4 linked regions of the Homo sapiens genome follow. The protein of the gene in region 4 purifies or fractionates together with the protein of the main gene of each other region. This does not show direct contact. Each region holds a gene or a part of one and is shown on either strand. Other genes may lie near its edges. The genes, in order: MCCC1, PDCD6, MRRF and NUDT13.

Region 1 (3,569 bases), on a different chromosome or scaffold from region 4:
GATCTCCTGGGCTCAAGCAATCCTCCCACCTCAGCCTCCCAAGATGCTGGACCCACAGGCACGTGCCACCATGCCTGGAATTTTTAAAAAATTTTGTAGAGACAGGGTCTCCCTGTGTTGCCCAGGCTGGTCTTAAACTTCTGGGCTCAAGTGATCCTCCCACCTTGGCCTCCCAAAGTGCTGGGATTACAGGTGTGAGCCACTGTGCCCAGGCCTGGCTGATTTAAAAAAAAGAATTTTGAGAGACAAGGTCTCACTAAGTTGCCCAGGCTGGTCTTGAATTCCTGGCCTCAAGCTATCCTCCTGCCTCAGTCTCCCAAAACACTGGTATTACAGGCATAGCCACATGCCTGGCCCAAACTATTTCAACTGACCTTCATACAGTTATATTTTAAAAGATATAAACTCATACCTCTTTATACCCATGTCTCTAATTGCAGATGGAGGAGGGCCTATAAAAATAATTCCTTCTTGCTTACAAAGTTCAGCAAATTCCATGTTTTCTGAGAGAAAACCGCATCCTGGATGGATAGCCTAGAAATGAGAAATAAAATAAAAAATTTACTCATCAGTGCTCAACTGGCAACACCTTAATGCAGGTGAAGCTGTCTTCCTCTGGGAGGCCTCTCCCTACACTGGTAATAGTATGGTCTCTATTAAACTCTGTTTCCAAAGAAATATCTGAAATATTCATATGAAAGCTCTGAAGGCTTACCTAAACCAGATGAATCTATATTTCTTTTTATTGTGATAATATATACATAGCAAAACACTGACCATTTTAGTTACTTGCAAGTATGTAATTCAGTGGCATTAAGTACACTCACAATGTTGGGCAACTGTCATCACCATCCATCCTCAGGATGTTTTAATCTCCAAACATAATTCTCCATTCCCTCCCTTTCCTTAGTCCCTAGTAACCAGGATTTTACTTTCTGTTTATGAATTTCTCTAGCCAAAGTACCTCATGTAAGTGGAAGCGTATAATAATTTGTCTGAGTTTGGCTTATTTCACCTAGCATAATGTTTTCAAGGTTCATTCATGTAACATGTATCAAAATTCCATTTGTTTTTAAGGTTGAATAATATCCAGTTTGTACACATTTTGTTTATCCATTAATCTCTTGATGGACATTGTGTTATTTCTACACATTGTGAATACTGCTGCTGTGAACAACAAGTATTGGTATACAAGTATCTGTTTTGAGTCCCTGCTTTAAATTCTTCTAGCTGTATACCAAAAGTGGAATTGCTGGATCATATGGTACAGAAGTTTCTATATACTTAAATTTAAAATAATATTGCAATTAGGGTAGAATGTCAAGAAGTAAAGGGCTTCAGAGTGGTAAGGGGAATTTGTCTATTCTGTCTCTGTGTAAAACTGGCCTAGAATTGAAATCATGGCATCCAAAAGCCCCAAACAGAACACTAGCTCAATAAATACCTCACTTATCTTCAGGTCATCAATGTCATCTTTCCAGAAAAAAAGCTAAGAAGCAAATGAAAGTCATGTATTAAAGTCTACAGGAGTGTCCCCTTATCCAAGATCCCTAGTGGATGCCTGAAACTATGAATACTACAGAACTGGACTGATACCAATTTGACCACGCTTCTGTTCATGTCTTCCAATCACAAATGTAATGCCTTTCCCATCTTAACTAAGTACTTGCCATGCCCTGTGGCCATAAGTTTTGCAGTTTGAGGTGCAACAGGAAAATGACATGAATTTGTTTTTCCTTCTTCACAATTTCACAGATAGAAACTTGGTCCTTACCAAGAACCAAGAAACCTCAACATACATATTTTTTTCTTTCCTTGAGAATTTTCACCTTTTCACTTAAAAGAAGCATTTCATGGCTTCTCTTTAGCATAAGTGAATTGCCACCATCATTGCTCTTGCATTTTGGGGCCATGATTTAAATAAAATAAGGGTGACTTGAACACAAGCATGGTGGTACCATGACAGTCAATTTGATAACCTAGATGGCTCCTGAGTGACTAACAGATGGGGAGTGGAGACAGCGTGGAGACACTGGACAAAGGGACGATTCACATCCTGGGAGGGACAAAGCAGACTGTGCAAGATCTCACTGTGTGACTCAGAATGGCGTGCAATTTGAAACTTATCAATTGTTGATTTCTGGAATTTTCCATTTAATATTTTCACACCATAGTAGACTGCAGGTAACTGAAACCACTCAAAGCAAAACCGTGGATAAAGGGGACAACTGTACGTGTACTTTCAGTGAAAAGGGCATCCCTCAGACTTCAGCCTAGTTACTTCCAGTGTACTCAGAATTTTAACAAACATACTTACTGGGATTTTAGCCCACAGAAGAGGAAATTCAGTAACTGAAGGACAGCAAGATTTCTAAAAGTAAACACGCTGACAGCAAAAAGGGAAGAAACAGAAGGAGGCAAAAGGCAGAGAAGACTTGGATGATTTAATGAGTGATGAAGCCACACCCTCTCCAACATCAGTAGCCCTGAGGGGATTTGTTCTTCTAAAATGTGAGCGAGTATTATAATTATGACCAAAACAATGTAAAAACACAAAGGTTCAGCCAATCCTGTTTCAAAATAGTTACACTCAAAGAACATTTCAAAATTAAAGGGGTAAGCTTCACATATCTGGGAAACTCATACGAATAGAAAAACCCACATCCTAGTGACAGGAAACAATGCAATGCCAGATACAGATAAAATGCTGGATACTCATATGTTGCAGCCAGTTTAGAGTTTTATATCTTTTAAACCAAAGTTCAATTTTATTTTATTAACTTTTATTTTAGGTTTGGGGTGCATGTGAAGATTACACAGGTGAATACATGTCACAGGGGTTTGTTGTACAGAGTTCGTCACCCAGGTATTAAGCCCAGTATTCAATAGTTATCTTTTCTGCTCCTCTCCCTCCCACCTTCCCCACTCAGGTAGACCCCAGTGTCTTTTGTTTCCTTCTTTGTGTTCTTAAGTTCTTATCATTCAGCTCCCACTTCTAAGTGAGAACATGCAGTATTTGGTTTTCTGTTCCTGTGGGAGTTTGCTAAGGATAATAGCTTCCAGCTCCATCCATGTTCCCGCAAAAGATGTGATCTTATGCTTTATTATGGCTGCATAGTATTCCGTGGTGTATATGTACCACCTTTTCTTCATCCAATCTGTCACTGATGGGCATTTAGGCTGATTCAATGACTTTGCTATTGTGAATGATGCAATGAACATACATGCACATGTGTCTTTATGGTAGAATAATTTATATTCCTCTGGGTATCAACCAGTAATGGGATTGCTGGGTTGAATGGCAGTTTTGCTTTTAGCTCTTTGAGGAATCACCCTGCTGCTTTCCACAATGGTTGAACTAATTTACACTCCTACCAACAGTGTATAAGCGTTCCCTTTTCTCCACAACCTCCTGACATCTGTTATTTTTTTGACTTCTTAGTAATAGCCATTCTGACTGGTGTGAGATGGTGTCTCATTGTGGTTTTGATTTGCGTTTCTCTAATGATCAGTGATATTGAGCTTTTTTTCATGTTTGTTGGTCACATGTATGTCTTCTTTTGAGAAGT
Region 2 (3,569 bases), on a different chromosome or scaffold from region 4:
TTCCCAGAGCTGACCCTCTGACTCTCCAGGGCCCACAGCACTGGTGGAGTCTTGGAACAGCCCTGTCAGGAAAACCTGCTTTAATTAGAAACAGACCCTCGCCTATGTCCTATTTGCTTTCAGTCTAACTCCAGGTCCAAATACAAAAGAATCTATAACTACCTTTATATGTAGTTGCAATATGGCTAAAAAACATAGAAAAATTCAGTGTGAATTACTGCTGCAGAGAAAATGATAAATCACGTGGTCTCTTTTCAAGAACAGAGGTTAATACAGGACTGCAATAAGACTACTCCTGGTTTGATCAGAAATATGTTACAATTAAATGAAAATCCACAGGATGAAAAATCATGTGAGAAACAGCATCGATGTTTCTTCCCAACAGTCCACAACCCTGTGTGCAACCAGTGGCTGTTTTTCACACAACCGTTCCACGACGTGCACCGTTCCACGACGTGTGTGGTGTGTGGACCAGGGGCTGTTTTTCATACGACCATTCCACGATGTGTGCAGTGTGTGTGGACGATGCTGTTGCGTGCAGGACCCACTGCGCACCACACACCAGCAGGGAAGGATGCTGGGTGAGCTGCACCCCAGGGTAAGGGCTCCGCAGAGGAGTGGCTCCCAGGCCATTCCTCTCCGGTGGGGAGGTAGCTCCCCATGTATCAACACCTTTTCTAGCACTAAAGGCTGAGCCCTGCCACTACTACACTTCCAAGTTTTCTCTCCCTCCATCAGTGTGACGTAGCAACATATGCACGACCAGCAGGGCACAGTCATCTGGAAAAGCCCCCAGCTACACCCACACTAGGACTCAGACACCTCACCACACACAGGCTCCGCAAGGAACTCAGGGAATCCTCACAAGACTAAAACACGTGCATGGATGGGAGGCGAGGGAATGAGCCCCAGGCCGCTCTGGGAAACCTCGAGACACAATGCCATGGTCCCTGTGAGGCAGAACTGAACCTGGGATTCCATATTAAAGAGGTCTGAAGGGGGCTGCACCTCCCAGCAAAGGGAACCTTCCAGAAATCAAGTCGGGTAGGGATGGAAACATGACTCTCCTGAACACCTGCCTCCCAGGCCTGCCTGCCCCTGGAGCTGCAGCTCCCACCTGGCTACGGGGGATGGAGACACAGCACGACTCTCCTGAACACCTGCCTGCGCCTGGAGCCTCAGCTCACACCCCGGCTACCGTCTGGGCATGGGGGTGCACACCTGTAATCCCCACTTTTTGGGAGGCTGAGGCAGGAGGATTGCGTGAGCCCAGGAATTCCAGACCAGGCCTGGGCAGCACAGGGACACCCTGTCTCTTAAAAGAAACAAACAAAAACCCAGCTGCCTATACAGCTGGGGAGACCCTGGACCCAAAGAAATGATGCAGACCCTCACATTAAGGCTACACATGAACCCACAAAACAAACAAAAATTACAGAAGCATCAAGGAAGTTGGTCACTCTGTGTGGGCTTGAGCAGGAAAAATATCTGGCTGTAGACCACCCTCCCAAGGACTTCAAACACAGTCAAGGAGCTCCATGTCACAAATATCTAGCGCTTTTCAAAAAAGCATGTTCTTAAAACTGAAGACTATCATATGAAATATTTGAATAAAGAATGGAATCACAAAAATAAATAAGCAATGTCTATCAAAAACACCCAGATAAGATGTGAAAGTAACTAATAATTTAGAAATTTTAAATATATGTCATCTTTAGAATTAGAAACTGAAAGGACAGGTTACACCGTACATTAAAAATAAACAGAATCAAGAATAGAGCAAACATACACGGAGAGATGTGAAAAGGTACAGAGACGGAGGGAGAGGGATGAAAGGGCCGACGCTCATCTAAGTGGAATTCCAGAAGGGAGCAAAGTGATACGGACCCACAGACAAAGGAAACACAAGCGGGTACCCAAGCGGGTCGGATACAAAGCAGCCCAGGTTGGTCCGTCTGCCGATACTTACATATGATCGACCTGACAGTCACTGGATTAAAGGGAGTCCACGTGCCTGAAAACAAACAACAACAGGAGTTAAAGTAAAAGGAAAATCTTTCTGGGACACTGAGTTTGTGATCTATACCTGGAGGCACCAGGAAAAGCAGTGGGGGCTCTAAGGTAGTGGTTTTCTAGACACTCCAGGTGACGTGTCGGCTGCCATGACTCCTGGGAGGGGGCCAAAGCACTGCCTGGTGGGTTCACACCCTGCTGTGTGTGGGAGTCCTTCGTGGCCTCCCAGACCTCCAAGGCCGTCCACAGTCATCGCGGCTGGACATGCACTCTTATTTAACAGATAACCAAGAAATGGTTCTGTATCATTTTACACACAGAATTTTTCAAGGATGCAGTCACCAGCTAAGTTGAGAAGTTCGCACTTAGTTTTGTTAGAGGACTTCACGAATTCCCATTTCAGAAAATCCATCATCAAGGCCACCACTGCCTGCAGACACCTGAACATAGCTTGGTCGCTGTGGCATTCACACTAATTCTACTGAAAGGTGCAAGTACCAGACCCCTTCCTTCCGTTCTCCCTCAGTAATCATCCTAAAGCACGGTGAAGACATCCATCACACCACACTTCAAACATTCCTGACAAATTACGGTCTGGGCTTTATATGATTTTCCTTGAAACTGAATAGGAAAGCTGTACTATCCTCAGACTCATCGTTGAATCTGATACCCTTGAGCGCTCACAACCATTTATCAACTCTGAGAATGAAGATTCACTGATGACCTTCGCACACAAGAACCTATCTTCAGAGTGATTTGTACCTTCAGTAATTTCCATACTCACTAAAAATGAACTAAAAAAATATTTTTAAGGTCAGGAGAGACCAGTGGCTCTCCTCATACCCCGTCTGTGTTAGACACACAGTTTTTTTTTTTTTTTATGCACAAAAATGCCACAGTCCTGGGCAGTACACAGAGACAGCCCCCTGATCTCAGAGAACAATGTCAGGCTCCTGGTGGAGCACGGGCGGTGGGGTCTGCTGGCATGGTCCCTTAGGCCTCTACGTGCCACCACTCTGGGCTCATGGGGCTCCTCCTAGTGCCATGCCCGCTCTCACCTGAAGTGCGTCCCCTCCTAAGACACACACACCCTCCCTCCAGCTCCTTCCTTTCCTTCCTCAGGGAGACTTCCACGGGGGTACCACATTCTCCCAGCCCAGAAGTTAAATCCATTTGCTCCGCCTGAGCACCTCCCAACTTCCCCTTGGGAAGATCCCGCCCTCCAGCAGTTATGCAGGGAAGCTGTGCTCTTCCCACAAAGGCAGGTGCACCTGAACCTGAGGCATACACACAGAGCAGCACTCAATGATCCGCCCTCCAGCAGTTATGCAGGGAAGCTGTGCTCTCCCCACAAAGGCAGGTGCACCTGAACCTGTGGCCCACACACACAGCACTCGATGACCCACCCTCCAGCAGTTATGCAGGGAAGCTGTGCTCTCCCCACAAAGGCAGGTGCACCTGAACCCGTGGCCCACACACACAGCAGCACTCGATGACCCACCCTCCAGCAGTTATGCGGGGAAGCTGTGCTCTTCCCACAAAGGCAGGTGCACCTG
Region 3 (3,569 bases), on a different chromosome or scaffold from region 4:
GTAAGTACTACCCTTGACCCTTTGCAGATAACTATTATTCTGACTTCTAGTAGCATGGATTCGTTTTCTCTTTTTTTTTACTTTTCAGTTTATATTCTCATATCTGGCCTTTGTACTGTACAGTTTTGTTTTCTTGTGTCTGGCCTCTGTGTTCAACATCATGTTTGTGAGACTCATTTAAATTTTTGTGTGTGTTCATTCTTTCTCATGGTTGCATAGTATTTCATTCATAAATATTACTATTCATTCCAATATTGACAGGCATATCTTTAAATTATTAATGTGCATATTTGGTTTTAAAAGTTCAAAGTTGAAGATATTATTTCAGTTGCTTCTGGCTTCTGTTGTTGCTCTTGGAAAGTGTTCTAAGTTTTAATCCTTCATGGATAATTTGTCTTTTCTCTTGGGCGTTTATAAAGATCTCTTTGTCCTTTGTTTTCTGCAGTCACAACATGTCTAGGTGTGAATTTACTTTTATTGTCCTATTTGAAACTTGTGTTTCTCAATCCGAAGATCCACATCTTTTTTTTTTTTCTTTGATCTGTCGCCCAGGCTGAAGTGCAGTGGCACTGATCTCGGCTCACTGCAACCTCCACCTCCCGGGTTCAAGCGATTCTCCTGCCCCAGCCTCCCGAGTAGCCGGGATTACAGGCACACGCCACCACGCCCAGCTAATTTTTGTAATTTTAGTAGAGATGGAGTTTCACCATTTTGGTCAGGCTGATCTTGAACTCCTGACCTCGTGATCTGCCTGCCTCGGCCCCACAAAGTGCTGGGATTATAGGCATGAGCCACTGCGCCCAGCCCCACATCTTCTATCAGTTCTGAAAAAAAACCTAAGCCATTGGTTTCAAAGCATAATGGTAACATGGGCAAATAAATGTTTTTAAAAATCACTCTGTTGCTTACCAGTTGTTTACTTTGGACGAAACATTTAAATGGCTTGTGCCTTAGATTTCTCATCTGTACCATGGGGACAATACTAATCACTATTCTTCCTACCTCAGAGAGCTATCTTGGATAGCAAGGAGGAGAATGTACTTGAAATTGCATTGCAAGTTATAATATGCCACCCAAATAGTACAGGATTGAGTTCACTGTAGATGTTCAACAAAATTTATTTAATGAATCTCAATAAATATTTGTTGAATGTTTAATGAATAAACAGTGTAAATATTGTTTAAAATTTTATTGTTTTTCTCCTTCCCCATTCCCTATAAAAGAAATGCAAGAATATTTGCATCACTCACAGAAATTATCTATGTATACACCTAGAATGTATATGAAAAATCACTACGATGATTTAGACATAAAATGAAATTATATTCAGCTCCCAATGCTGTTGATTTTCTAAAATATAAGCCATTGTCTCTACCATTGGTAGTGTTTAATGTCTGTAAACTACTATTGTTCCTTTTGTCTGTACTCTACCAGCCATCAGATATTGTGTGCATATCCTTGTCTTAGTGTCCATTTTTAATGAATTAATGTATTTCCTGTCTCTCTAATTAGATTTTGTGGAGATGGGCTAGTGAAAAGTTCATGGGTTTAAAATTAGGCAGATCTGGAACCAGATCTTGACTTTTCCATTTCCTGACCTGTGACATTAGGCAAATAGCTTTACCTTTCTCATCTTCTGTTTACTTTTCTGAAAAGTAAGGGATTAATTTAGTTATGGATTCCCTGCCATGTGTATAGTGTTCTTTTAGGTGTTTGAATGACTTAATTTGTATCCTTGTAGCAACCTTGCAATATAGATGTTACTATTCTTTTACAGGTAGGGAACTTGATACTCAGAAAGATAACTTGCCTAAGGTCATAAAGCTAGTATGCATTATAGCCAGACTTCTAACCTGGGGTGTCTGATTATAAAGTGTGCCCCCTCACTAGTATCTGAGAAGGTGTTTAGCACAGTTGACACTCAGTTAATATAGGCTCTTTTTTAGTGGAGCGATAATGTTTTATAATTTTCTAACACTTGACATTTTTCCCTGTACATAGTAGGTACTTCTTCACCAATTGCTTATTGGCTCTGTTTATGCTGCTGTTGTTTTATTCACTGAATGTTCACTTTTTAGCCAAAGGGAAAGGACAGTCCCAAACCAGAGTGAATATTAATGCTGCCTTGGTTGAGGATATAATCAACTTGGAAGAGGTGAATGAAGAAATGAAGTCTGTGATAGAAGCTCTCAAGGATAATTTCAATAAGACTCTCAATATAAGGACCTCACCAGGTTAGTGACTGAACCAATGTTCTGGGGAGGGATGTAATGGAAAGAGCATGGGTTTGGCAGAGTTGAGTTTTAGTCCCAGCTTTGCCATTTACTAACTGGTGGCCATGGGCAGTTACTTTGCTTTTCTGGTCCTCGGTTTTCTTGTTTGATTCTTAACTTACAGCTTTGGGGTGGTAGTTAAAATAAATGAGGTAACGTATTATGGTTCTAGCATAGTGCCTGGCGCATAGTTAACACTACATTTATTTATCCATGCTGCAAATTTTTGTCTACTTTGGAACTAGGCATTGTGCTAGTGCATAGTAGTAAACAAAAATAGGTATTGTCTTTGCTATCATGGAATTAGACTCTCAGAAAAATGAGATTTTTATTATGAATGTACTATAAACACATCTAGGTATTTAGTCTCATAGTAACTGACATCTTTGGTCCGATTTTTCCAATTTGTCCTGTTTGGCAGTTCTTATCCCTTACTGGGAACCAAATGAATACAGACCTGCCCACGTGAGGCATTTCTATACCCCTGAGCTTGACCAGGAAGATTCCGTTTGGGTTAATAACTTCCTGAAAGTGGCTTTTCTAAGTGGGAAATGTCAGAACTGTCTAGGCCAACTGTTTGCAGATGTGATGGAGAAGTGAGTTGTCAGCTGATGGTGCAAGCAGGCAGGAAAAATCCAGTTGCTGTTAAATTAGGCTTTTGCAAATTGTCATCATCCTAAAGTCAAACCTGGGACCCCTCTCTTAAGGTACCTGTGGGAGCTTGGGCTGCTTCTACTCACATCTTGATTAGGATAGTTCATAAGAAAACTAGAAATATTTCGCTCTTAAGAAAACCAAGTGAAAAATACAGCTCCACTTATAAACACTATCAGAAACATTACCGAGTTCAGAGATGAGATCCAGTGTGAAACTAGAAGACTGTTCCCGTCACTTGTCAACCTTTGGGCTGGGGCATTTCTGCCTTTGCTGACAGTAGAGCGTGCCATTCAATCTCTCTCAACTGTTTATTTTAAACTTGCTTATTATTTTAGGTATGAAACTGATAAAGTGCTCTGTCTCCCCTGTGTTTTCTGGCCTGTTAACATTCTGCAGCCGAAACCAGAGAGCAGTTTGAGAGGAGCTCAGGGAGAAATGTGATACTTAAAATTAGCCAGCAAGCTCCACTCTTGTTGAACTTAAAAAGATGATGGGCCTGGAAAGAGGTTGGGAGTGTAATTTGTTAAATGTTAACCTCTGAGAAAATGAGGGGCAGGAATGAGGCTGAGGGAGATTCTCGCTGGGGACAGATTGAGGGAAAAGGATTTGATGCATTATGTCGATACGGATTTAGGAATG
Region 4 (3,569 bases):
ATTGACATATATGCAAGGGAGAATGGAGATTATTTGCTTCCTTTACTAGGTTGCAAATTCCTTGAGGGCATAAATCATATTTAATTAAATTAATTAATTAATTTACTTTCAAGATGCATTCTCACCCTGTTGCCCAGGCTGGAGTGCAGTAGCGCGACCTCAGCTCACTGCAACCTCCACCTCCCAGGTTCAAGCGATTCTCCTGCCTCAGCCTCCCAAATAGCTGGGACTACAGGCACCTGCCACCATGCCGAGCCAATTTTTGTATTTTTAGTTGAAATGAGGTTTCACTATCTTGGCCAGGCTGGTCTTGAACTCCTGACCTCGTGATCCGCCCACCTCAGCCTCCCAAAGTGCTGGGATTACAGGCATGAGCCATCGCACCCGGCCTTAATTTTTGTATTTTTAGTAGAGATGGAGTTTTGCCATGTTGGCCAGGCTGGTCTTGAACTCCTGACCTCAAGTGATCCGCCCACATCAGCCTCCCAAAGTGTTGGGATTACAGGCATGAGCCACCGTGCTCAGCCCTAAATCATATTTTACACATGTTTATGTAATCTAGATGATGCTGGACTAGACAAGTGCTTAATAAGTACTTGCTGATGAGCAGGTTGGATGAAGCAAAAGAAATATCACAGTATAAGGGAAGATGAGAACTTACTTCTGTCTGCCCTGGTTTCACAGTTGCATGGCAAGCAATCATGAGTGAGCCACTAGGGAAGGGCCAATGCTGGGATGCATAGTACTGCAGGCTTTCCACCTCCAATCCCACCTCTTCTGCAACTTCTCGGCGGATGGTCTCTTCCACACTTTCACCTACAAGCACTCAGATTAATTCAGGACAGCCCTGTAGGCTAGAAGGGTGATACAGACAGCCCATTTGAGAAAGGTGCACAACACTGGCTCCAAAGTTTCAATGAAATGCTCTTGGGAGTGTCCTAAAACTCTGAGTCATTCCAACAATAAGAATCAGGTCCAGAGCTGTGTGTTGAACCACAGTGCTTAAGTCTGCTAGGTCTAAAGTAAGTGTGACAGTAGGAGGGACTACTGCACTCAGCTTTCATAAAATTCCACTTTTCACCATTTGCAAATTTGACCCCAATAGACTAGAGAAAAAAACCAACCTGTAAATAAATACTGAATTCTAGCAAATGTTACGCATGCTGAAATAGGAAGAAGTGTACTAATATCTTCAATCTATGCATCAAAAAATAAGATAGATTAATGGATAGATGGACAGCTTTGTGATAAAGTAAGTGTAGTAAAAATTCATGGAATCTAGGGGTGTGCTCAGAGCAGGGGGCCTAAAGAATGGCTCCTCTGTTTATAACACACCCAACAGGAATCTGGGGTCAATGTGATGAGAGGCACAAAGCTTGTGGCCTCCCTACAAACAAATGCCTACATGTGAAGAGGAAAAAAAATTATAGAATCTGGGTAGTGGGTGTATGGGTGTTCACTGTATAATTCTTTCAACAATCTCCTATGTTTGAAAATTTGCTTAAAAAAATAGTGTGGCTCACACCTGTAATCCCAACACTTTGGGAGGTCAAGGCAGGTAGGTCACTTGAAGCCAGGAGTTCAGGACTGGCCTAGGCAACACGGCGAGACCCTGTCTCTACAAAAAATTTTAAAAATTAGCCGGGCATGGTAGCCTGTGCCTGTAGTCCTAGCTATTCAGGAGGCTGAGGTGGGAGGATTGCTTGAACCCAGAAGGTTGAGGCTGTAATGAGCCATGATTGCACCACTGCACTCCAGCCTGAGCAACAGGGTGAGACTCCCATCTCAAAAAAAAGGAAAGGAAAAAATTTTATATATATATATATATATATATATAAAATGCCAGAAAGCAGTTTTCTTGACATGATAGAAAAGAATGTGCTTGGGAATTCAAGCTCTATAGCAACAAGACAGAGAAGATTGTATTAGTAAGATTGTATATCTTCCAGTGTCACCTGTATATCCCCTAAACTCCTCACCTATATCACAAAAACCTGCCAAGGCAGAATACATTCCCTTGGGAAAGGAGCTTTGGCGGGCAAGCAGGCATCGGGTCCCATCTGACACCAGCGTGATCGCCACAGGAGCCATCTAGGAAAGGGGAATGGAAACTGAGATGCTGGCACTTTGGGCCCTGCCAATGAGCTAAAGCAGTGTATAATTAAGGAATTGCACAGGCTTCCTTCCCCAGGACAAAGCAGCGCACAGTCTTCTTGGATTACTGTCCTCTTACAGCAATAATTACCTGTGGATAATAGATTATATTATTGGAAGGGCACACACGCTTGCTGCCAGCCACGTTCTTCTTGGTGGGCTGCCCACTTCTGCTGCAGAACTGATGAGCATCATGCCAGCGGAGAAGAGCTTGAGCCTAGGAACACAATGATGGGCCTGGTGTCATTTGGAGAGAATGCGGGGCTCATCTTTAACAGCACTGGGCCTAGTGTCTGGAACAACTCACAGAAAAATGCCAATCTCTTTACAGCTCACGTAATTTAAATGGTTACTGTTTAAATTTCAGGACAAGTAAACTAACTGAACATATTCCTCTAGCATCAGAAATCTGAATAAAAGAAAGCATATTTTTAAATGTATTATTATTTAAAACATATGAAGTATATGAGGTAATAAAATGAACACCCATGTATTCACTAACCAGCTTAAAAATAAAACATTCCCAGTACAGTTGAACACCCCAAAATGTTCTTCTCCCTGGTAAAGTTGGAATTTTTTGCAACTAAAAAAATGTTTAGAGGTTTCTTTTTAAATTAAATGCACAATCAAAATACTTTAGCAAGTGAAATCTAAAGCTGTGAGGGCAAGTCATTAAAGCAATGTAAAGTAATTTCTCTTAGGGAAAACATGATACTGTATATGTCATGCTATGTGGGTCATTAAAAATGTTTATGAGGCTGACAGATCCTATTGCCATAGATCTGCATGTCTTTAGGAGACAATGATCTTGACAGTGGTTCTGCCAAAAACAAGGGCAGAAGAAGGAAGAATAAGCAATCTCCCTACAGCACATTGTCCTGCCAGTGTTTGTAGAAAGGACTATAATCTGCAAAAGAAGAAATCAAACGTCACTCTAGCCTTGTGTGTACACATGGATTTGCCCACACTTACTGCTCTACTAAATTTCCTACAGAATGAGAAATCAGAATCTACCGTGGACAGCAAGGAGGCATCCCTTGCATTGAGTTGAAAGAGTGCCTTTCTCAGCTCAATGAAAGACCCCTTGAGCTCTGTCTCCATTTCAGGTTTGTGTAAGGAGGCTAGAAAATTAGAAAAGATAATGAAATTAAACAATGACAAACTTTGCCTCAGGGCCTCTCTCCAGTCTATCCTGTTAAAATAGTGTTTCCCAAACTTGCCTCGTAAGATTCAGCTAGGTGTGGGGGGCGTGTGCCTGTAGTCCCAGCTACTCAGGAGACTGAGGCAGGAGGATGGCTTGAGGCCATTAGGAGTTCCAGGCTACATACAGTGCGCTATGATCTTACCTGTGAATAGCCACTGCACTCCAGTGAGACCCCATCTCTAAAATTTAAAAAAGGCCAGGTACGGCACTT

The links.
Region 1: the proteins of NUDT13 (region 4) and MCCC1 purify together in Homo sapiens (affinity purification with mass spectrometry; one large-scale study listed by BioGRID and IntAct). This does not show direct contact.
Region 2: the proteins of NUDT13 (region 4) and PDCD6 fractionate together in Homo sapiens (co-fractionation; one large-scale study listed by BioGRID). This does not show direct contact.
Region 3: the proteins of NUDT13 (region 4) and MRRF purify together in Homo sapiens (affinity purification with mass spectrometry; one large-scale study listed by BioGRID and IntAct). This does not show direct contact.

Annotation. Positions count from the first base shown.
Region 1 is NC_000003.12:183,071,954-183,075,522, forward strand, and holds part of MCCC1 (methylcrotonoyl-CoA carboxylase subunit alpha, mitochondrial isoform 1 precursor), read right to left. Parts: intron 535-3,569; coding exon 413-534; intron 1-412.
Region 2 is NC_000005.10:302,622-306,190, reverse strand, and holds part of PDCD6 (programmed cell death protein 6), read right to left. Parts: intron 2,015-3,569; coding exon 1,970-2,014; intron 1-1,969. UniProt on the Homo sapiens protein: Calcium sensor that plays a key role in processes such as endoplasmic reticulum (ER)-Golgi vesicular transport, endosomal biogenesis or membrane repair.
Region 3 is NC_000009.12:122,278,365-122,281,933, forward strand, and holds part of MRRF (ribosome-recycling factor, mitochondrial isoform 1 precursor), read left to right. Parts: intron 1-2,078; coding exon 2,079-2,234; intron 2,235-3,569. UniProt on the Homo sapiens protein: Responsible for the disassembly of ribosomes from messenger RNA at the termination of mitochondrial protein biosynthesis. Acts in collaboration with GFM2. Promotes mitochondrial ribosome recycling by dissolution of intersubunit contacts.
Region 4 is NC_000010.11:73,123,920-73,127,488, reverse strand, and holds part of NUDT13 (NAD(P)H pyrophosphatase NUDT13, mitochondrial), read right to left. Parts: intron 3,276-3,569; coding exon 3,169-3,275; intron 2,372-3,168; coding exon 2,246-2,371; intron 2,092-2,245; coding exon 1,980-2,091; intron 1,410-1,979; exon of another isoform or gene 1,282-1,409; intron 855-1,281; coding exon of another isoform or gene 837-854; exon of another isoform or gene 817-836; coding exon 662-816; intron 1-661. UniProt on the Homo sapiens protein: NAD(P)H pyrophosphatase that hydrolyzes NADH into NMNH and AMP, and NADPH into NMNH and 2',5'-ADP. Has a marked preference for the reduced pyridine nucleotides.